3 linked regions of the Homo sapiens genome follow. The protein of the gene in region 1 interacts with the protein of each later gene in a pairwise test. Each region holds a gene or a part of one and is shown in the gene's direction. Other genes may lie near its edges.

Region 1 (7,258 bases):
CAAGGATGAAGGTACAGACCCAATAAAGATTGTGTCTTAAAAAAGAAGGATATATATATATGTGTGTGTATATATATGTGTGTATATATACGTATATATATACACATATATATACACACACATATATACACGTATATATACACACATATATATACGTATATATATACACATATATATACGTATATATATACACACATATATACACACATATATATACATATATATATCTTTTAAAAAATAAAAATCTCCAGTGTTGCAGAAAAAAATATTATAAATTGATTTCAGTCCATAAAAAACAGCATGCAGCAGTTTGTGCTATCTTAAAAACCCCAACTCAGGATAACCCTAGGAGAAAATCACCTCCCCCCATTAAAGAAGAATTCTCTTTTCTATTCTTTCTTGTCTAAATTTCACTGCTTATTCCACAAAACGCCGAAAGAATAACAAGACTCAGTTCACATCCCTCAGCCCTTGTCTGTCTGTTAAGGCCAACACCAAGCGCTGTTCCTTAGGAGTCTTCACCTTTACTACAATCAGAAAATTGAGCCCTAATTTCACGGCCAGATTTCTAGAAACCTGCAAAACCCTCATAGTTCCCTCAAGGAAGGACCTGAAGGCCCCTTGAAAGATCAAGGGAGTATAAGTGTACTTGGCAGAGACTGGAATGCCTGCCAGGCTGGGAAAAGGGGGCCTTTCTACACAAAAACACCCCCTAAAATACCTTGTAGTTGAAAGTCTAACTAGGCAAAACCAAGTAACAGCAGGCATCAAACTATGGTTCTACCTAAAGGGTATATATCTTCCCCCTTTAACCATAAAGGTAAGGCGGGGGGCGGGGTGTGGGGTAAAGAGAGCCAAGTGAGCATTTGACTTCATCTGTCTTCTGAGAAGTTAGCATATTTTAGGCTGAAGCCATGTTGTAGAGACATTTGGCCAAAGGATAGTCTTTGCTATGTGTGGCTATATAAAGCTGCCATTTCTGGGCAACCTGGTTCATGGCTGCTTTATGGAAGCTTTACCCCTTATGCAGAGTATTTAAGAATTAATAGGAAATTTTTCAGTTTGATTTTGTAAGTGACAAATACTTTAACAACAGCTTCCCAATAACCACCAATGGAGACAGACTACTCCTCAGCTCAGGATCATAGCTCCTTCCAGTCAGTGGGCTTCTTGCTAGACATCTGCAGGAGCTCATTGGTCTTAGAAAATTGTCTACATCCAAAGAACCCTCTGTACACGGGAAGGAATGAGCCATCTGCAGCACATGGTGCTGCTTCCTGTGGATGGCACTGCCCTTCTTCTTAGCATAACAGCCCCAGAGCAGAAAGACAAGGCCATTCGAGTTCTGATTTAGCCAGGACACAACCGCATTGGTAAATTGCTCCCAGCCTCCTCTTTCCTTATGAAAATTGGCTTGATGGGGCAGAACAGTGAGGACAGCCTGGAGTAGGAGAACACCTTATTTGGCCCACCCAGATAAATCTCCATGACCAGGATGAATAAAACCATATCTGTAGATGGCTCTTTATAAATGTTTTCCAAACCAGGCAGAGGTGGAACAGGTCTTTGAACACTAAAGCAGCCCATGAACTTGATTCGGTCTCTAATATGGGTCCTGTCCTGGGATGACAACCTTCACATCTCTTATGTCACACATCTGGGTCCAGGTGAAGACTTAGTGTGGGGGTGGATAAACAGTGTAATGTTTCCTTTCTTCTGCGACAAATCCTTTTATCTTGATAAAATAACGTTTCCCGAATTCCATTGAGGTGCTTCTTCCAACTCTCACCAAAGCCCATGGACATGTTACAGGCCATGAGTCTTGAGTAGGGCCACAGCCTCGTTGCTCTGGATACTGACCAACTGCCCAGCAGCAAGAAGGGCAGCGTCTTGGGCTTGTCTTATCTGGCCGGGGCCTTCTTGGCAGGAGCGGCCCCCGCATCCTCACTCTCCTCACCATGGCTGCCCTGCTGGTCCCCAGGTCATCCGGCTCAGGGCTGCAGGCACGTTGCTTCCTGGTGGGGCTGTGGGAACGAATGCACACCACTTGGGGACTGCAAGGCTTGCCCTGGCTGTAGTGTTCAGTAATTGATCTATATTGCTTTTTGACTTACTGAATTGCAGAGTTGGGAGGAACATTAGATCAGTGATTTCTCAGACCATAATGTGCATATGAATAATCTGGAGATCTTGTTATATTGCAAAGGAGGGGCCTAGTTTCTGTGTTTCAAACAGTTCTCAAGTTATAGTGATGCAGTTTCAGGTTCACACAACACACTTCCAGTAGCAAGGCTTTAAATGATTATGAAACGGGAATAATGTCTATCTTTCAGAATCATTTTAAGAATAAGAGATAATACATGTTAAGCATCTCAAAGTGTTTCCGGCACTTTGTAGTTCCCCAGTACATGATTAGCTATATTGTGATTAGTAATACCTTCCTTTATAGAGGAGGAAATGAATTCAGAGAGGTTGTCACTAGCAAAGGTCACATTTGCTTATATATGTTGATGTAAATTGTTTGTGTTACTTAACATATTTCTTATAGATATTTATATGCTAACAATACAGCATTCTCTTATAAGTAGCAGAAGTAATGCTGAATCTTTCAGTGCTCATGTGTATTAAAGAAGAGGGGAAGTAACATAATTTACCTCTACATCTTGCCTGATTATCACAACAGCTCTGTAATGTAGTCAAGAGACTCAGAGAGAATGAATAATTTACTCATGTTCACATGCATAAATAAGTGGCAAAGCTGGAATTTGAACTTGGATCTGTGAATCCAAAGTTCTTATGTTACATCATTGCTACCTCTCACAGCTCCCTGTCTACCACAGGCATTGACATGTGTTATATGTCGACAGGAATAACATTGTTGCTGTTACTTTTTAAATCTTTTGGACCCTTATAATTAGAATAGACATGGTAAAAATAAGAATGATTCAGGTTGAACATTAAAAAAATCTTCTTGGTCATTCAGGTTCTACTTAAAACAGGTACAACTGATTTGAATAAGAAAAAATTGAAGGTGTGGGCATGTCTAACATCCTAATTGCATTTTGCTTTTTCTATCCCTGGTTTGAATTCTTTGTTATAATACATTTTTATGCATTATCTGGGGAAATGATAGGGAACTAGTGAAAAAGAAGACTATGGAAAATATAGCTATCAAAAACTTGGCCAGGTGCAGGGATTACCCCTGTAATCCCAGCACTTTGGGAGGCTGAGGCAGGAGGATCACTTGAGGCCAGGAGTTCAAAACCAGACTGAGCAACATAGTTGAGACCTCATCTCTATTTAAAAAAAAAAAAAATTAGCCAGGAGTGGTGGCATATGCCTATAGTTCCAGCTACTTAGGAGGCTGAGGTGGGAGGATCGCTTGAGCCCAGGAGGTTGAGAGTGCAGTGAGCTGTGATTGTGTTACTGCACTTCAGTCTGGGCAACAGTCAGACCCTGTCTCAAAACAAAACAAAACAAAAATTTAAAAAAACCCTTAATCTACATTAGCATGAGCAATAATTAAAACCAAACCCTTTATTATAATGAAAAAATGTTTTATATAATGGTTGTAATGGTAATGACACTATACATTTGTCAGAATTCATGGAAAGAATGCAGATAAAATTGGTGAATTTCATTTTAATTGATTTAATAAAATTAAACCCATTAGAGAGGTTGACTTGAATTTTTTTTTCTGACCTTTTTTTTTTTTTTTTTTTTTTTTGAGACAGAGTCTTGCTCTGTCGCCCAGGCTGGAGTGCAGTGGCACAATCTCGGCTCACTGCAAGCGTCCGCCTCCCAGGTTCACGCCATTGTCCTGCCTCAGCCTCCCGAGTAGCTGGGACTACAGGCGCCCGCCACCATGCCCAGCTAATTTTTTTGTATTTTTAGTAGAGACGGGGTTTCACCGTGTTAGCCAGGATGGTCTCGATCTCCTGACCTCGTGATCGGCCCCCCTTGGCCTCCCAAAGTGCTGGGATTACAGGCGTGAGCCACCGCGCCCGGCCTCTGACCTTGTTTTTATATAGATTGATCATAATATCAATACTTTCTATTCTCAGTAAATTAGGCTGTCACCAAAGAAAGCTATTATATTCATTTAGACTTGGAGCTCAAAAAGAGACACTTGTTTTTAAAGGAAGGAGCACTGTTGAAATAACAGTCTCTATAACCTCAGGAACAGATTAAGTACATTGCTAGAATGAGCTATAGAAAGGACTGCTATCTTCTGGAATATGTAGGAGGAAAATGTTGTTATGACAAAAATTGGTGAGAATTCAGTCATAGTCCACCATTTCTGTAATTATGATGGCGATTATAGTATTAAGGGAAACAATTGGAAAACTTTAACTTTTATCTGGATGAATCATGATTCAGTTTATTCCTTTCTTATGCCTTCTTACTGTTTAAGATATAATACACAGAGAAGGAATCTCAGTACTGTCTTGCTTGTCTCTAGACGGCTAAGGACAAATTTATGAATGTTTGTGTTTTTTTTTTCTTTTTCTCTGAATTATCTGCTTAGATACAGGGACTCCATTTTTTTCCTACTTACAAGATCTTTAATCCTAGTATTGAGGAAAATGTCACTTACCTAACGTGGAATTGTAGACAACATCTAATGGTAGTTGTTGGTGGTGGTAGACAGGTATTGGGATGAATTTTTTAAAAAAATTTTCTCTAAACCATTCTAAAATGATTTTAAAAGATTGGGTTGTAAAAGCCATTGAATTGAAATTTAGTAGTTAATTTCTAAGGAATGTAATGCTGTTTTTAAAATATTTCTTTACATAGGTGGTTTTGATGATAATTCTCCTCTGAGTTCAGTTGAGCGGTATGACCCCCGAAGCAACAAGTGGGATTATGTGGCAGCACTTACTACTCCCAGAGGTGGAGTGGGAATCGCAACAGTGATGGGCAAAATCTTTGCAGTTGGTGGTCATAATGGCAATGCATACTTAAATACAGTAGAAGCGTTTGATCCAGTGCTGAATAGGTAATTTACATGTTGTCTCCGTGCTTTATATTATCTTCTGGTATAATAGTAGATTACTTCAGAGTGTTAAAATGTTGCTAGTCGTAGTTAATACTAAGCTTTGGGATATCTTATCTCCCACTGGAAGCTTGCTGTCCTACAAAACCAGTCTCACATAGGGAATTTTTGTCTTTGGTTAGTATTTTGAGTAAAGTAAATTATGCTTTGTAACATTTTTTCTTCTCCGTCTTTTCAGGTGGGAGCTTGTTGGATCTGTGTCTCACTGCAGAGCTGGAGCAGGAGTAGCTGTGTGTTCCTGTTTAACTAGCCAAATTCGAGATGTAGGTCATGGATCCAATAATGTGGTTGACTGTATGTGATTTGAGTTCTGGCCACCAACAATTTAGTCATATCTGATAGGTACAAAAGAAAACCAAGATTTTGATATGACCACCTTTCAACACTTTTTACTGCAACTAGAGTCTTATTTAAATGTTAACTGTTGTATTGTGACTAAGTACAACTTTTGGAATGATACCTGAAGAATTATTAGTAATAGAGTTAAATTTGATACTTCCTGCTTTTGCAAATAATGGAGTAGGGAAGAAGATAGTCGAACTTAAAATCATACCTACCCTGAAAAATGCTTAAAGTAGTGCCAAAAATCTTGAAATCTCTCTCTCTCTCTCTATTTGGATGAATCAAAATGTAATTTGTTGAGTTTTGCCTTTTCTTTTGCCTAAAGATGTTAACGTCAGGCAGTGGGTTTTTCCTAGAGGAGAGATTAGTACCTATTCATTAACACAAGGATACATAAGAGACTTGCCCCTTTTGAAGATCATTTCTACTTGGTGCTGATGAATTTATGCCTAGCTTTTTTTTTCTAGGTGGTGATTTTTCAATTTCTTTTATATTTACGGAAGTAGAAAAAATGTTCTGTCTTTTTGAATGCCACTTAGCTGCATTTTCAGAAGCTTATAGGCTATAAGAAGCCTTTAATTTCAGTTTGAATTGCTAGGACACCAAAAGACCTAGCTGGGCTAACTCCATCCAAATGATTTTACAGTTTTATTTTTTCATCTTTTGCAAAAAGTATTTGTTACATAATCAAAAGGTGAACCAGAGGAAATATTGAACAAGGTTTTAGATCTGATGTTATTCTGGTGCCCAATTGAGAGACCTTGAGAAAGAATGATGCAGATTACATGACTCTAATGTGGGCAGTCTGAAAATATCTTTAACTGTCTTCTTTGATCATTTGATTTTGGATCCAAGATTTATCATCTCTCTATTTTGCTATTTGCCACCATCCTGGTTTTTCTGACTGTACAGAATCAATCTGCATTTATTTATTATCAGAAATGAATGCATTTTTACAAAAACCTTTTTGTAGACTGTAGTTTATTGATTAGTTCAAGCCCATCACGAACTAATTAAACATATTGTTGGTAAAAACAGAGATTGAAATTACTGTTTTTATCATATTTAAATCCCTCTGGTGTATTTATTGAAATTTAATTAAAAATATTTCTACATATTGATTTGAAGCCAGGATATTGATGGACCTACAGATTTAACAGCTCTTCAAAGTTTTAACTAGCATTATAAAATGGCCTATTCATTATATGTATATTTTTTTATAAATATTTATCAAGAACATGAAAATATTTTATTTTGTATTTGCAGTGCAGTTTGGCACCTCTCTTCCAGGCCTTCCTAAGTTTTTGTTAGTTGTGTCTTCGAATTTATTGTAGTTCACCGCTGGTCAGTAATCTGGTTCATAAGGAAGCTGGGGCAGTGAAAAACACTTCGTTGATCCATCCAGCCCTAAAGTTCATTGACTAATAGCTCATGCATCTTATTAAATGGGATTCTGGACTTCTACAATAGTGTGGAAAGCCACATCACAAAAAAAGCCACATCACAAAAAAAAGCCAGTGCCTATTGAGTATATCAAACCAAAAAAGAAAAAAAAAAGTTTTAAGAGGGGTCAGGCTGGCAGATAAAAGTCTCTTATGAAGCAGATATAAATCCAGTAAGCTATTTTTTTCTACCTATGGGCAAGTTCATAAGTCATTGCTGGATCTGAACCAGTGTTCTTTTGTGTAAGTACAACCATATTTCAGTCAGTCCAGAGGCAGTTAACCCTGTAGCACTTACTAGACTGGTGACAACTGGCTGGATGTGGAGAATAAGTGTCAAAACCTGGCTTCAATGTCTATTTCTTATGTCTAATGGAGTTCTTATATTACAGTGTTTGTTTAGCTATGGTTACTAATA
Region 2 (7,258 bases), on another chromosome or scaffold:
CCATGCTCAGCCAGTTTCTTTTTTTTTTTTTTTGAGACAGAATTTTGCTCTTGTCGCCCAGGCTGGAGTGCAACAGTGCCGTCTTGGCTCACTGCAACCTCCTCCCAGGTTCAAGCGGTTCTCCTGCCTCAGCCTCCTGAGGAGCTGGAATTACAGGTGCCCGCCACCGCGCCCGGCTAATTTTTGAATTTTTAGTAGTGACGGGGCTTCACCATGTTGGCCAGGCTGGTCTCTAACTCCTGACTTCAGGTGATTTGTCCGCCTTGGCCTCTCAGAGTGCTGGGATTATAGGCGGGAGCCACCACACCCGGCCCCTCCTGTGGTTTCTAATGCTGTAGTAGCTGGGACTCCAGGTTGCACGTTTTGTTCTAGGGAATGTGCATCAGCCTTCACCTGCAAGCCCCGGGCCCCCTGCACTCCAGAGATGCTGGACTGGAACCCACCCAAGGCAAAGGCGTCAGTTCTGGCCCCTCTGTTCTCTTCGTGTGGCCCCCAGCAGGCCAGCCGCCCCGGCTCCACAGCGTCCTCCACAAGGGGCCTGCCGAGTAAGTCAGCCTGGGCCCCACTGGCGTGGGAGCCTGGCCACCCGCCAACCTGCAGGGAAGGGCATTTTGCTGCTATATTTGGCCCCGTGCTCCTGTGTGTACCAGGCCAGGCCAGAAGGGCAGAAGGCCTGCTTCCCTTCCCCACACAACCAGGCCCCAGCAGGTGGCTTCCTTTCCTCCAGGGACCGGTTCTGCATGAATCTTCCTTCCTATTAAATTCCCTTTGGCCTCAGTGACTCAAACTCAAGCTGAGGAGTGAGACCTCCAGGCAGGTCACTGAGAGAGAAGCCCCTCCCCACTTCCCTCTGTGGAGCTCACAGAGTTGGCCCTGAGCTGGCCCTGCTGCCCCGGGGTTGGCCCTGAAACTCGGACCTGCCCTGGTGGGAGGTGGTCCAGCCCCTGGTTCAGCCACTGTGTCCCTGCCTGGCCCAGCCTCGGTCAGGCCACCCCCAGGTCAAACAGAAGCGGGTGTCTGCTCGCAGGCTGGATGGAGGGGCCGCCAGAAGGGCCTGAAGATGGGATGGGCCCAAGGGCCCCCACTCTCTCCCTGGGGCCTCTCTCTCACCCTCTCACCTGAGGCTCACTGTAAGGACCACTTCTTTGTCTTTCTCTGTCCCCTTCCAGCCTCTGCCAATTGATAGCCCCTCCACCTCCACGCCCCAACTGAGCTGAACCTTTCTAGAGGGCTTTACCAAAACACAGGGAAAACAAAAGGACAGAACAAAAGGCCAGGCAGGACGAAAGGAGTCCCGCTTAGGATATGCGCATTTCTTTGGCCGCCCCCAGCCCGCCCCACCCTACTACCTTCCTGGCCAGGCCCTGGGCGCTCTGGTCAGCTGGGGACACGCTGGGTTGGAAGTGGGGGTAATGGCCATGGCTGGGGAGCCAGGTTGGGACCCCTCCCACTTCCCACTGGGAAACACACCCAAAACCCCAGCCCAGCCAGTCGCAGCCCAGGTCAGGCGCAGAGGAGGTGCAGCAAATCCAGGGGAGGCTCGGCCAGGAGGAAGGTGCCACTGGGGCAGGGATCCCCAGTCATAGCAACAGTGACACCAGCAGCTGGTGGCTGGCCTGGCCCCACATCTAGCAGCATAGCGTGGCCACGGTGTGGACAGCTCAGCCAGCCATGGGCGTTGTGTGTCCTGTGGGCTCAACAAACACGTGAGCTGTTGCCAGCAAAGCTGACTGAGTGACCCGCACCAAGCAGCCTGCTTCCTGTGAGGAAAGAGCCGGCCCGCCAGTCGAGCCCAGGCCACAGAACAGGTGACCTGGGAGAGGGAAGGTTCCCTCGCTTCTGAGCCGGCTGAAAGAGGGACTGAGTGGGACAGAGGGGATTCTGTGCGGAGACCACACAGCACTGGCATCTTGCTCTGGCTTTTCTCTCCAGGCAGCCAGTCTCACAGGAAGTAAGGATGTCCCCGGGTGTCCCCATCACGTTGCCGGAGGACCAGCCAGCTTCCCGCTCTCAGCTGGCAGCAGCTGCCGGTGATGGATGTGAAGGGACAGTTGTCCACAAGACTCTGGGAGCTGAGGGGAGGCCGGCTCTCCAGGCAGCACCAGAGCAAGGCCATCGCAGCCCCGCCAGCCGGGTCACTTTCTCCCAGGGCAGAGCCACCAAGGAGGGCTGGGGAGAGCCTGGCATTGCCCTCCTGGAGAGGGGAATTTCCTGCTCACCCTTCACACACAGAGGAGAGGGGTGGCTTTTGCCCGCAGGAGATCTTCTGGCCCCAGAAACAGCAGGTGCTGGATTTGCAGCCCTGGCCCTCCAGGCCCCAACAGGGCGACAGTGTAGGGCCAGCCTGGAGCAGGGCTTTTCCAAGGCTGCTGAAGCCAGCCCTCCTCACTTGGGCTGACTACCAGGACCCAGAAGGAACTCAGGGTGAAGCTCATTTTATTCTCAAGCCTGCGTCTCAGCAGCAAAGTTGGTGTTTTCTTCCTGTGTTAAAATCTGAGAAAGAAGGCCAGGTGCGGTGGCTCACGCCTGTAATTCCAGGACTTTGGAAGGCTGAGGCGGGCAGATCACGAGGTCAGGAGATCGAGACCATCCTGGCTAACGTGGTGAAACCCCGTCTCTACTAAAAAAATACAAAAAAATTAGCCGGGCGTGGTGGCGGGCGCTTGTAGTCCCAGCTACTCTGGAGGCTGAGGCAGGAGAATGGCGTGAACCCGGGAGGCGGAGCTTGCAGTGAGCCGAGATCGTGCCACTGCACTCTAGCCTGGGTGACAGAGCGAGACTCCGTCCCCAAAAAAAAAATTCTGAGAATATGGTGTGTTCCAGCCTCTTCAAAGCTCTGCTCTTCTGCACACGTTTTTTGAAGGCCTTAAAAAGGCCACCAGTGTGACCAGGGAGCACCCTCTGCCTCCCTCCCTGCACTGGGACCATAAACATAAACAGCTCTACCAGCAAAGTGACCCATCCCGCGGGGGAGGCCTGCGCACGCCCCTCACCAGGGCTGTCATCAGAATCCAGTCTTAGGACAGAGGAAGGATGTTTGCCTTCAGGACCAGCAAGTCACAGGTGTCCTGGATGTTACCCAAGCTCTAAAATCAAATAAAACCCATCAGTATTTAGTGGTGTGTGTGTGTGTGTGTGTGTGTGTGTGTGTGTGTGTGTGTGTGTGTGTGTGTGTATGAGTGTATGAAGGGAAATGGAAAGCAGAGAAAAGTCGCGTGCCCTCCCCCAGGCACCTGATCTGCCCACAGACCCTTCAATGGGGACATCTCTGGTCCCAATGGTCGTAAATAAAGGCTAAGCGCTGGATTTTTCCATGGCCCCCTGACTCCTCAGGAGCGCAGGCAGAGGAGGTAAACAGGAGGCCAGGTTACCCATGAGATGACCAGAAGCTCATCCAGGGCCGGGACCCTGGTTCATCTCGTGAATTCTTGGCAGCGGCTCCAGGCTGGGCACATTAGATGCTGTCATGTGACTGGCCTGGTGGCCACCTCTTGGTTCTCTGGAAATGTGTCCACTCTGTGCTCAGGGAAGAAGGCTGCCGTCCTGACCTGTCAGCCACCAGGCCCTCTCTGAACTCCTCACTTGACCCGGAGGCATTGGGAGCAAACACAAAGCTCGCCCCTGGTGTCAGTGGTGCAGACAGAGGAAAAGCAGAGGGTCCGCAAAATGCAACTCCTCCGTGGTGAGACTTTGAAAAGGTGTAGAGTGGTTGCAGACAAACAGCAAAGGAGTGGAATGGAAAAATCTCTCTTGCTCCCCACAAGAAGTCCACTCCCCTACGGATTCCTCAGATGCCACTGGCTGGCACAGCCTTTCCCGCCCTTGGTGTGGGAGCAGCAGAAGTCCAGCGGGGGTGGGAGAATCATCGGGGTCAGGTCAGTGTCTCCCTCGTCTGAAGTCAACCACTACTTTTCCCTCAAGCCTACCAAAGAGCTAAAGTCTGATCTGTAGATGTCTGATGGTTTGAGGAGAAGAAAAGATAGTCTTTTAGAGAAGTGGGGAGTATCCAACTTAGGGTCAAAATACACTGAGATTAGGCCGGGCACAGTGGCTCACACCTGTAATCCCAGTGCTTTGGGAGGCCGAGGCGGATGGATCACTTGAGGCCTCCAGGAGTTCGAGACCAGCCTGGCCAACATGGCGAAACCCCGTCTCTACTAAAATACAAAAAATTAGCTGGATGTGGTGGTGGGTGCCTGTAATCTCAGCTACTCAAGGAGGCTGAGGCACAAGAATAGCTTGAACCGGGAGATGGAAGATGCAGTGAGCCAAGATCACGCCCCTGCACTCCAGCCTGGGCGACAGAGACTCCGTCAAAAAAAAAAAAAAAATACATTGAGATTACCAGGTGGGGTATGTGTGGTTCTTCCAGGAAAGTGCTGAAAATATCACCCAGGCCTCTGCGCCACGCCCTGGGAGAGTACACTCCTGGGCTCACGCCTCTGCATTCCAAGGCTGACAGCTAGAAATATACTTTGTAAAATACCAACAACTTATTCACAAATATTCCAACTATCTACCAGCTCCAATGAGCTTGCTGAGGATGGGTATGACCCCAGTCTAAGGGGAAAGAATCTAAAACACAAGTAAACCTGTTTAAAGGCCAGATCTCCAGATGGAGATCCAAGCAGATGGCGCCTAAGGTTTGCCCTTGAAAACTACCAAGGAAGCCACAGAGAGGGATCTTTGGACCTTCTGGAAAATGGTAAGGCCCCAGGTAGATTATGGCTCCTCTGCCCTGGAGGCTGAGCCGCCCCTCTGGTTACCTCACATCTTCTGGTTTCTTCTGAGTGGGACTTGATCTCATTTCTGCATTCACAGCAAGGTGGAACTGTCTGGCAAGAGCTTAAATTAGGACCTGTGGTGGGGACTTTAATAGGCAGGTGGAGGTTTGAGATCCAGTGAGATGCCAGAGATTAGTCAATAGGTGAGGAAAGATTTGGCCCAAATCAAAAGAGCTAAAAAAAAAATAATAAAATAAAAATAAAAATAAAATAGTTGAACAAATAAGGTTCATGAAAAAAAAAGAAAAGAAAGAAAAGGTAAAGAAAAGAAATCCATGATAAAATATCAAACTTTTTAATAAAAACAAGTCTGGCCCTGTACTTGGATGACCCCACCTGGCTTGTCTAACCCTAATCCCAGCCCCAGTTTTAATAAAACTGTATTTACAAAATAGGCAGCTGGGACGTGGACCAGAGATACCAATTTGATTTTTTTTAAATATTACATTAAAATATTACATCATGTGTCTTCATTACTGAGTTTTGGGGTAGCCCTTTAAATTTTGTATGCAAGGTGAATACCTCACCCCTCTCTCCTGGCCTAGAATCTGGGGGATCCTCCTGTCCCTCCCACAGTGCCTGATAGCACAGCCTGGGGCTGGTGGTGTGCCTGTTTGCCTAGCTTTATCTCTCCAGATACTATTTGGGGTGTGCTGTTCTAAGAAGTGATTAGGTTAGCTTTTGCATATTAACAAACTACCTCTGAAACTTAGTGGCTTAAACCAACAAATGTATTAGCTTTATAATGATTTGGATCAGTGATGGGGGCTGGGCACGGACAGGCGATTCTTCTGCTGGGCTTGGCTGAACTCAACTATGTCTTATGGTCAGAGGGCAGTCAGGGGCTTCGCTCATGTCTGGTAGTTGGCTGTTGGCTGAGCCCTTGGTTCTCCTCTGGCTTAGGCTTGTTCACATGGTGGCCTCGGGGCTCCCATGGCAGTTAGAGAAATCAAGCCCAAGTCTCATATCACGTTCACTATTCTCCCATTGTCCAAAGCAGACCACATGGCCAAGGCCCAAGTCTGTGTGAAAGGATGTGGATACAGGGACCCCGAATGAACCAGAGGCAATACTGCTGCAAGCTACCACATAGATGCTGTTCAGAGCTTTGCAGGACCAAATCTTTTAGGGCTGTTTTTCCATTGTGGTATACCCTCTCCATTTAGATTCAATTGAACAAATATATTCTTTGGGGCTGCAGTGTGTCAGATGTGGAGACATGGTCCCACTGGCTTTCAAGTTGCCATCCATCTTCTAGGGAGAATTTCTGGCCTTTTCGGATGGCATGGTCCAGGCCGGAGCACCAGCCCCAGGTTGAAACATCAGGCAGGTTTCTAGGAAATGGTTGCAAAATTAGCAAAAAGTCAGGGCTACAGAGCCCTATCCAGAGTCGTCATCTTAAGGTGTCTACTAAAGCCTGGGGGTGGATGGGATCTCAGAAGGGGGACTAGAGAAATAGGAAACTGGGGACAGAACCCGGGGGTGAGAAAGAAGACAGCAGGTGTTGTGGGAAGTCAGGGACCCCAAACGGAGGGACTGGCTGAAGCCATGACAGAAGAACGTGGATTGTGATGATTTCATGGACATTTATTAGTTCCCCCAAATTAATACTTTTGTAATTTCTTATGCCTGTCTTTACTACAGTCTCTAAACATAAGTTGTGAATATTTCATGGACACTTATCACTTCCCCAGTCAATACCCTTGTGATTTCCTATGCCTGTCTTTACTTTAATCTCTTAATCCTGTCAGCTGAGGGGGATGTATGTTGCCTCAGGACCCTGTAATAATTGCATTAACTGCACAAATTGTACAGCATGTGTGTTTGCGCAATATGAAATCTGAGCACCTTGAAAAAAGAACAGGGTAACAGCAATTGTTCAGGGAATAAGAGAGATAACCTTAAACTCTGACCACTGGTGAGTCGGGCGGAACAGAGCCATATTTCTCTTCTTTCAAAAGCAAATGGGAGAAATATCGCTGAATTCTTTTTCTCAGCATGGAACATCCCCTGAGAAAGAGAATGCACACCTGGGGGTGGGTCTCTGAACTGGCCCCCCTCCCCCGGGGGCGTGGTCGTCTCTTATGGTCGAGGCTGCAGAGATGAAATAAACTCCAGTCTCCCATAGCGCTCCCAGGCTTATTAGGAGGAGGAAATTCCCGCCTAATAAATTTTGGTCAGACCGGTTGCTCTCAAACCCTGTCTCCTGATAAGATGTTATCAATGACAATGGTGCCCAAAACTTCATTAGCAATTTTAATTTTGCCTTGGTCCTGTGGTCCTGTGATCTCGCCCTGCCTCCACTTGCCTTGTGATATTCTATTACCCTGTTAAGTACTTGATGTCTGTCACCCACACCTATTCGCACACTCCCTCCCCTTTTGAAAATCCCTAATAAAAACTTGCTGGTTTTTGTGGCTTGTGGGGCATCACGGATCCTACCAACGTGTGATGTCTCCCCCGGACACCCAGCT
Region 3 (7,594 bases), on another chromosome or scaffold:
ATCAGGTATACCTGGGGCAGATATTCCTAGAGAGTGTGCTGCCTGGCAGAGGAAGCAATTGAGTTGGTCATTAATTTACTGGGTGGATTCCTAAATGGGGGCCTCAGAGCAACTGCTTTGGGTAACAGGGAACATCTTTGCTGTTTCTAGACCCCTGGAGAGGGCTTGGCATCCTGACAAGGAGGCCAGGATGAGCAGCTCCGTCTTTTGAATAGCTCAATCCAGCCTCAGACAGTTGAAATTAGATGTTAATCTCTGACCAGGCATAGTGGCTCACATCTATAATCCCAGCACTTTGGGAGGCCAAGGCGGGTGGATTCCCTGAGTCTAGACATTCAAGACCAGCCTGGACAACATGGCACAATCCCATCTTTATGAAAAATACAAAAATTAACCGGGCATGGTGGCATGTGCCTGTAGTCTCAGCTACTCGGGAGGCTGAGGTGGGGGTCTGGCCCCCACATCCCAGGTCTTTCTGCTACACCACACTGTTGCCATAATGACTTCGACCTCATTCTGCCATCTCCTAAGAAAGCCAGAGTGCAGGCTAGGAATGTCACCTGAGCCCAGGAACTCAAGGCTGCAATGAGTGGTGATTCCACCACTGCACTCCAGCCTGGGCGACAGAGTAAGATCTTGCCTCAAAAAACAAACAAACAGCTGGGCACGGTGGCTCACACCTGTAATCCTAGCACTTTGAAAGCTGGGGCAGGCGGATCACTTGACATTAGGGGTTCCAGACCAGCCTGGCAAACATGGAGAAACCCCGTCTCTACCAAAAAAAATATTAAAAATTAGCTGGGTGTGGTGGTGCACGCCTGTAGTCCCCAGCCACTTCAGAGGCTAAGGCAGGAGAATAGCTTGCACCCAGGAGGTGGAGGTTACAGTGAGCCGAGATCATGTCACTACACTTCAGCCTGGGTGACAAAGTGAGACTGTCTAAAAAAAAAAATACTTTTAAAAAATAATAATTTTAATAAATGCCTACATATATGCGTGTGTGTGTATATATATATATAACATTTTTTTTTGAGACAGGGTGTTGCTCTGTCACCCAGGCTAGAGTGCAGTGGCCTGACCAGGGCTCTCTGCAGCCTCGAACTTCTGGGCTTCGGTGATCCTCCCATCTCAACCTCCTGAGTAGCTGGGACCACAGATGCATGCCACCACACCCGGCTAATTAAAAAAAGAAATTTTTGTAGAGACAGGTTTTCCTATGTTGCCCAAGTTAGTCTCAAACTCTTGGGCTCAAGTGATCCTCCTGCCTTGGCCTCCCAAAGTGCTGGGATTACAGGCGGGAGCCACTGCACCTGGCCTCAAATGCCACCATATTTCTGATTCCTGTCACCTCCAGGCTCAGAGACTGTGAGTAAACATTCTGGGCAGATAATCGTTTGCAATTGCTTCCAGAGTGCTCTTTGCTGAGCTGTTAAGCTGTGGGCTAAGTGGTAAATGTCAGGTATCTCTGCTGTCGTGGGCCAGGTGCTCAGATTGCTAGGATACAGCAGGGGGTGCCGAGATGAGGCAAGGGGCCGGGTTAGGAGTCCCTGCTCTAGCACAGCGATACTAGCTGAGTCCATCGATGACCTTTAAACCCGCTTCCCCGGTTCTGTCTAGATTACAGGGTTTGGAAGGCTTTGGAAGATGTGTTCAGAGAACTTTGCCCAAACTGGCCCACGCCTGTTCCAATGCTATGCATAGCTGTTTCTGATTCTTAGCCAGCTCAGGCCCTCTATTCTTTCCATGCTGGTCTGCGGCCTCCGTTACCCACCTGCTGAGGGCGATCTTCTGGTGGAGCAGAAAGCCCCGCTCGTAGGGCCAGGGCAGGCCGGCCTCGAACCACTCTCGGCAGCGCAGCACGGGCGAGATGCAGGCGGCGCCTGTCACGTAGCTGGAGGAGCCGCACTCGCCCAGGTAGGACAGGAGCAGCGCCGAGCCCGAGCCTTCGCTCACCGCGAACAGCGGCGCCGCCGGGTGTCGGAAGCGGATGTATGTGACCGCCTCCTTGAGGTCGGACGGGTCCCCGAAAGGCTGCAGCCGGGGGCTGACCAGTGGGCAACCGTGGTGGCCGCGGCGATGGAAGATGACCGGGTAGTAGCCGCGCTCCAGGGCGAGCAAGCAAAGGCCGAGCACGTTGCGGGTGAGGCGACCCCACGCATTGGGGATCACCAGAAGCACCGCAGGAAGGCCCCCGGCGCTGGTGATCCGGCGGCCCCGAACACAAGGTCCTACCACCCAGTCCAGGGCCACTAGCCCATCGTCCGCCAACTGCAGGTACTCCCGGGCCAGCTCAGGCCCAGGCGCTACGGGCAGGACGAAGTGGCAGAGGGTCTGCAGGTGGGGCCCGGAGAACCAGGAGCGCGGGCCGGCCTCCAGCGCCTCTGAGCGCCGCAGGGCGCGCAGCAGGCACTGGGCCAGGGCCGACGGCTTGCAAACAAGGCTGCACCCTCCCGGCAGTGGCTCGCGCCCGTCGCTGAACTGGTCCGCCGGGCCTCCGCCGTCCGCCTCCTCCCCGTCGTCTCGGTCTTGGGCCCCCGGCAGGGTCCTCTCTCCGACGGCGCGCCCCCAGGGTCCCCGGAGCCGCGGGCCGAGCAGGCCGAGAAGGGCGAGCACGGCCAAGATGAGCGCGAGGGCGGCGCCCCACGGCGGCATGGCGAAGCTGGAGAGCCCCGGCGGGCAGCGGGCGGCGGGGCCGTCTACTCGGCGAGCTCCGCGCTTTGCCCGCGGCTCCGCCCGCCGGCGGCGGCTGCCCAGGGCCCTCCCGCGCGGGCGCGCTCTGGATTGGCCGTGGCCGGGCAGAGGCAGCCAGTTCGGGCCCGGCTGCCCTCGCCCGCCCCCCACCCCCGCCCCGGCCCTTTGTACAGCAATTGCAACAAGTGGGAGCAGAGGGTGAGAGGAGCCGGGGCCACCAGGGAGGGAGGGCGCGCCGGCAGCCGGAAGGGAGTGGGGAGGGCACGAGCCGGGGAGAGCGGTGTTGGCCATGGAGACGTGGGGAGACTGGAGGCCGAGGCTTGGGGACCCGACTGTCATCAGGGTCTTCCGCCAGACCCTGGGCGCTGCGCCCTCAGAGGCCGATGAAAAGAAGCAGAAGGGAGAGGTGAGTAAGTCGCAGCTCCGGGCGCCGGCTCCCGGGACCCCGTGGGGCGGCGGCCGCGCGCGCGCTCTGCCCTCGGGCGGCCCTGCTCTCCCCCGCCCGGCCCCGCAACCCCGCAATAACTTGGCTGGGCGGGGTCCGGCACTGGGCTAGAGAGGTCGAGCGCGGCGTCTTGAGCCGCTGGCGGGAGGCTGCTGCTTCCCCGCCTGCATCAGTGCGGGTCCCGTGGACTCCTCGCCCCCGTCCCCGCGAGCTCGGGGCTCCACATCAAGGAAATCCTCAGCCCGGGAGTGGCTTCCCCAGAAACAGCAGCCCCAAGCCTCCGAGAGTCAGTCGGAGAAAAGGACACACTCAGGCGCCCTGCGACAGGGATGCCCGTCCGACCTACAAGGAACGCCTCGTAAACCGGGGTGCATGGGAGACCACGGAAATAACACGTTCTCGCTGTTTCCAAGCTTTGGGATAGGCATCTCGACCCTCGCTCTCTACCCACGTTTCCCCCCCAAATCCTGGAGAGGGAACCAGAACCAGCGCCCCGCTGCGGGGCGGGCCGGCCAGCGCACCTCCTGGGGGTGAGGCCTGTGGCGTCCCCATCTCGCGGCGACCAATCTCTTTCTAGACGCGCGCCTGCCACCGCTGGGCGACGGCGGAGGTGGGGAAGACAGCAGCCTCTCGGCTAGCTCCGGCCTCCCGGGGCTTCTGGGTTTGGAGAGTTTGGGGAGCGGAGACACCTCCCGAGGCTCCTCCGCGTTGGACCCTATTTGCGAGGGCGGGAGCGGGGTGGGCCGACGGCGAAGCTCCAGAGGTGGGACCCTCTCCCTTCAGCAGCTCTTCCTGACTTCATGATTCTGCCCCTCTTCTCATTGCAGGTCACACCGACAAATCTGAAGCGGGTTTGCCAGGGGAGTGTACCCGTCTCCCCAGCCTGGGCCACCCGGTCCACAGGGATTCCATTTCCGGCCTTACACTCCGCTCCACGATCTCATCCAGGCGCTGCAGCTGTGCAGCTGCTCTACAGACTGCAGGGACCTGCTGAGACGAATCCCCGGACGAGGAAAGGGGCCCCCCGCCTGCCCTACTGAGCCTTGCGCGCTGACCCGGTTCCTACACTTAACTTTTCCGGCTTCGGGTTTAAGACGCGTGCGCGCACACTCCGCTGCTGTGGGCGGGCATTGGGGCGGGGCGATACCGGGGGCCCACTGTCTGGGGAGGGGCGCGCGCGAGCCCAGGGCCAACGGACGCGCGGGCGGCGCGGGCGGCGCGGGGGCGCTGGGGCTGGAGGGGCGGGGCGCGCGCGCTCCCTCGCTGGCGGAGCGGCTGGGCGGCGGGCCGGGCCCGGGGCCGCTTGGAATGGCGCCTCCTCCGCCTTCGCCCCAACTGCTTCTCCTGGCAGCCCTCGCGAGGCTCCTGGGTCCCAGCGAGGTAAGGTGACCCGCTCCTGGGAAGGCCTCGGCCCGCGAGCTCAAAGCGCTTTGCCAAAAGTTCGTCCTGGAAGGAGTGGCGCGCCGAGGGGGACGCGGAGTTCTTCCGCTGGCGGGCTGGGCCTGGGGAGAGAGAGGGCAGGGCCTCGCCGCGTCCAGCGCCCCAACTCTTCGCTTTGGACCCACAGGTGATGGCTGGACCGGCGGAGGAGGCGGGAGCCCATTGTCCCGAGAGCCTGTGGCCTCTGCCTCCGCAGGTAGGAGCCCTGGAGGGCCCAGGGAGAGAGGGATGTGAAAGGCTAGCCCAGTCCCGCTCTGTTCTCGCCGCACCCTCCACAGTCACCATCTGAGGACCTCTGCCGGTTCCTCAGTCCTCAGTAGCCAACTTCTCCATCCCAGCCTGGCGCTTGGGGCCTGCCGTCCCCTCCCCACCACACACACACGGAGTCCCCCAACTGCCCTAAGCTCTGTTCTTTCCCCATGTATAGGTGTCACCAAGAGTGACCTACACACGAGTGAGCCCAGGGCAGGTGAGTACAAGCAGGGGCCCACCACCCTTGGTGTCCACGCCTGGAGACAGGCGCTCCTAGCAGGCTTCGCTGCCTGTTCTGCTGATCGGCCCCATTCCTTACCACTTCCCTCAGGCAGAGGCAGGGTTCTAGTTCTCTGCCCCACCTCCAAGCCCAGGACAGATCAGCCCCAGGACAGATGGCTCAAAGACAGTGAGCCATAGGCCTGTCATCTGCAATGCTGTGTCAGGATGCTGTTGGGTAGCTGGCTCTGTGGACAAGTGGCTGTGAGTGGAACTCTCTCTGAGAGTAGCTGGAAAAAACCCAGGCTCCAGCTCCCTGAGGAGACAGCGGGAAGTCTCCTGACTTTGTGGGCCCCAGCTTTCTGTAGGAGAGGGTATTAATTCTGTCTCTACCTGTGAGCAGCGAGGGAGGGTATGTGCCAGCACCGTGTACAGTACAGAGCTGCATCGTGCAAGGAGTGTGCCTCCAGTTGCCAGGCTCCACACTGCGGGCTCAGCTTGCGTGGTAGCATCTCCATCTTCATCGCCAGCTCCTCTGAATTTTCCTTTGAAATACTTATTATTATTATTATTTGAAATGGAATCTCACTCTGTTGCCCAGGCTGGAGTGCAGTGGCACTCACTGCAACCTCTGCCTCCAGGTTCAAGCAATTCTTATGCCACAGCCTCCCGAGCAGCTGGGATTACAGGCGTGTGCCACCTAGCTTAGCTAATTTTGTATTTTTAGTAGAGACGAGGTTTCACCATGTTGCCCACGCTGGTCTTGAGCTCCTGACCTCAAGTGATCTGCCTGCCTCAGCCTCCCAAGTGCTGGGATTACAGGTGTGAGCCACCATGCCTGGCCTGAAATACCTAACTTAAATTGGCCAGGCATGGTGGCTCACACCTGTAATCCCAGTACTTTAGGAGGCTGAGGCGGGTGGAACACCTGAGGTCAGGAGTTCAAGACCAGCTTGGCCAACATGGTGAAACCCTGTCTCTACTAAAAATACAAAAATTAGCTGGGCGTGGTGGCACACCCCTGTAATCCCAGCTACTTGGGAGGCTGAGGCAGGAGAATTGCTTGAGCCCAGGAGGCAGAGGTTGCAGTGAGCCGAGACCATGCCACTGCACTCCAGCCTGGCGACAGAGCGAGACTGTCTCAAAAAAAAAAAAAAATTCTCTGTAATAGCTCCAGGCCAAGAGTTGTTGCCTCACGCCACCTATCAGATTCCTTTCCTCAAACAGCCCTTTCATGAAGTCATTCCTCTGTTCACAAACTGTCAATGGCTCCTTATTTCCCACCTTATCGTGGCCATATTCTCCGGCCTGGCTTTTCAGGCCTTACTTAAGTAAGCTTCGTCTGACCTCTCCACATCCTTGGTTCCTCTCCAGTTGTGTCGGGCTGTTTGCCACACAAATGAGTGCCAGCCTCGCCCTTACCACAGCCCCTTTGCTCCTGTTTATTCTCCTCCACACCTGGCCTATCCTGACTCGGAGAGTGCAGCTCCCTGCCCTCCTGCCATACTCCCCCAGCCATCTTCCCAGTCCCAGCTGGCATCAGCTCCCCCTGAGACACTGCCCGATGGCATCAGCCTTTATTCCTCCCCTCCTCCTCTGAATCTATCTCTGATAATTTAACAACTAATCACTAAGTTTTATTAGTTTGCTGTTTTATTTGCATTAGTTGTTTCCCTGAGTTTCTCACACACTCCTTGCAAGCAGAGTCCAGGAGTTCTTTGGCATCTCCCACAGCATCTAGCACAGCACTGAGCACCAAGTCAACTCAATCAAAGAATAATGAATGATTGATGGAGTATTTCCATCCTGAGATTGTGCACCTGCTGCCTGCCTGCCCTGTATTTGGATGCTCTTGGGAGACTGTATAGATTGGATCGATGGTCTTCATTTGGGGGTTGCTTATGGCTTGGATTGTGGACCTGTAGAGCCATCGTTACACCTGCAGGGAAATATGGCTAGAGTGTGGTCTGAGTCTGGCAGGATTATCCAGGCATGCTGTGAGCTTTGAAGGGTGGCACTTGATGGAGAGGAAGGGTGAAAGGAACACTCAGAGGCAAGAGTGGGTACATGCCAATACCCAGGGCCCTTTGTCCTTTCCTGGGCCCTGAAGGTAGAAGAGCCATCCAGCTATCCTGGGAGTACCTTTAAACTGGTCCCCTGGATGGGAGAACTTGAGATTCTCTGGGAGGGCTCTGGGCCTGCTTTGATGTCTCTGTGCCTTTCCTCCAGGCTGAGGATGTCACCTTCCTCTACCACCCCTGTGCCCATCCCTGGCTGAAGCTCCAGCTTGCCCTCCTGGCCTATGCTTGTATGGCTAACCCTTCCCTCACCCCTGACTTCAGCCTCACGCAGGATCGGGTATGTAGCTGATGAAAGGCGCTTGCCTGGCCCTGGCAGAAGGCTATGGCCCCGTGTGCAGGGAATGGAAAATTCAAGGGTTTCCTCTTGTTTGTCCCCACCTTCCTCGTAGCTCTAACAGTTACCTCCTCTCGTAGCCCCTGGTGCTGACTGCATGGGGGCTGGCGCTGGAGATGGCCTGGGTAGAGC

What was found. The genes of interacting proteins can lie anywhere in the genome.
Region 2: the proteins of KLHL8 (region 1) and ARMC9 interact in binary tests that used the Homo sapiens proteins (3 or more experiments, as listed by UniProt).
Region 3: the proteins of KLHL8 (region 1) and TP53I13 interact in binary tests that used the Homo sapiens proteins (3 or more experiments, as listed by UniProt).

What each region holds. Positions count from the first base shown.
Region 1 is NC_000004.12:87,161,619-87,168,876, reverse strand, and holds part of KLHL8 (kelch-like protein 8), read left to right. Parts: intron 1-945; exon of another isoform or gene 946-2,031; intron 2,032-4,797; coding exon 4,798-4,999; intron 5,000-5,234; coding exon 5,235-5,358; 3' UTR 5,359-7,258. UniProt on the Homo sapiens protein: Substrate-specific adapter of a BCR (BTB-CUL3-RBX1) E3 ubiquitin ligase complex required for The BCR(KLHL8) ubiquitin ligase complex mediates ubiquitination and degradation of RAPSN.
Region 2 is NC_000002.12:231,369,581-231,376,838, forward strand, and holds part of ARMC9 (lisH domain-containing protein ARMC9), read left to right. Parts: intron 1-372; coding exon 373-545; intron 546-1,932; coding exon 1,933-1,955; 3' UTR 1,956-7,258. UniProt on the Homo sapiens protein: Involved in ciliogenesis. It is required for appropriate acetylation and polyglutamylation of ciliary microtubules, and regulation of cilium length. Acts as a positive regulator of hedgehog (Hh)signaling.
Region 3 is NC_000017.11:29,564,315-29,571,908, forward strand, and holds the start of TP53I13 (tumor protein p53-inducible protein 13 isoform a precursor), read left to right. Parts: upstream 1-4,386; 5' UTR 4,387-4,444; coding exon 4,445-4,516; intron 4,517-4,703; coding exon 4,704-4,772; intron 4,773-5,003; coding exon 5,004-5,045; intron 5,046-5,159; exon of another isoform or gene 5,160-5,275; coding exon of another isoform or gene 5,276-5,311; intron 5,312-7,276; coding exon 7,277-7,405; intron 7,406-7,517; exon of another isoform or gene 7,518-7,542; coding exon 7,543-7,594. Other genes in the region: protein ABHD15 precursor, read right to left, coding at 1,772-2,652.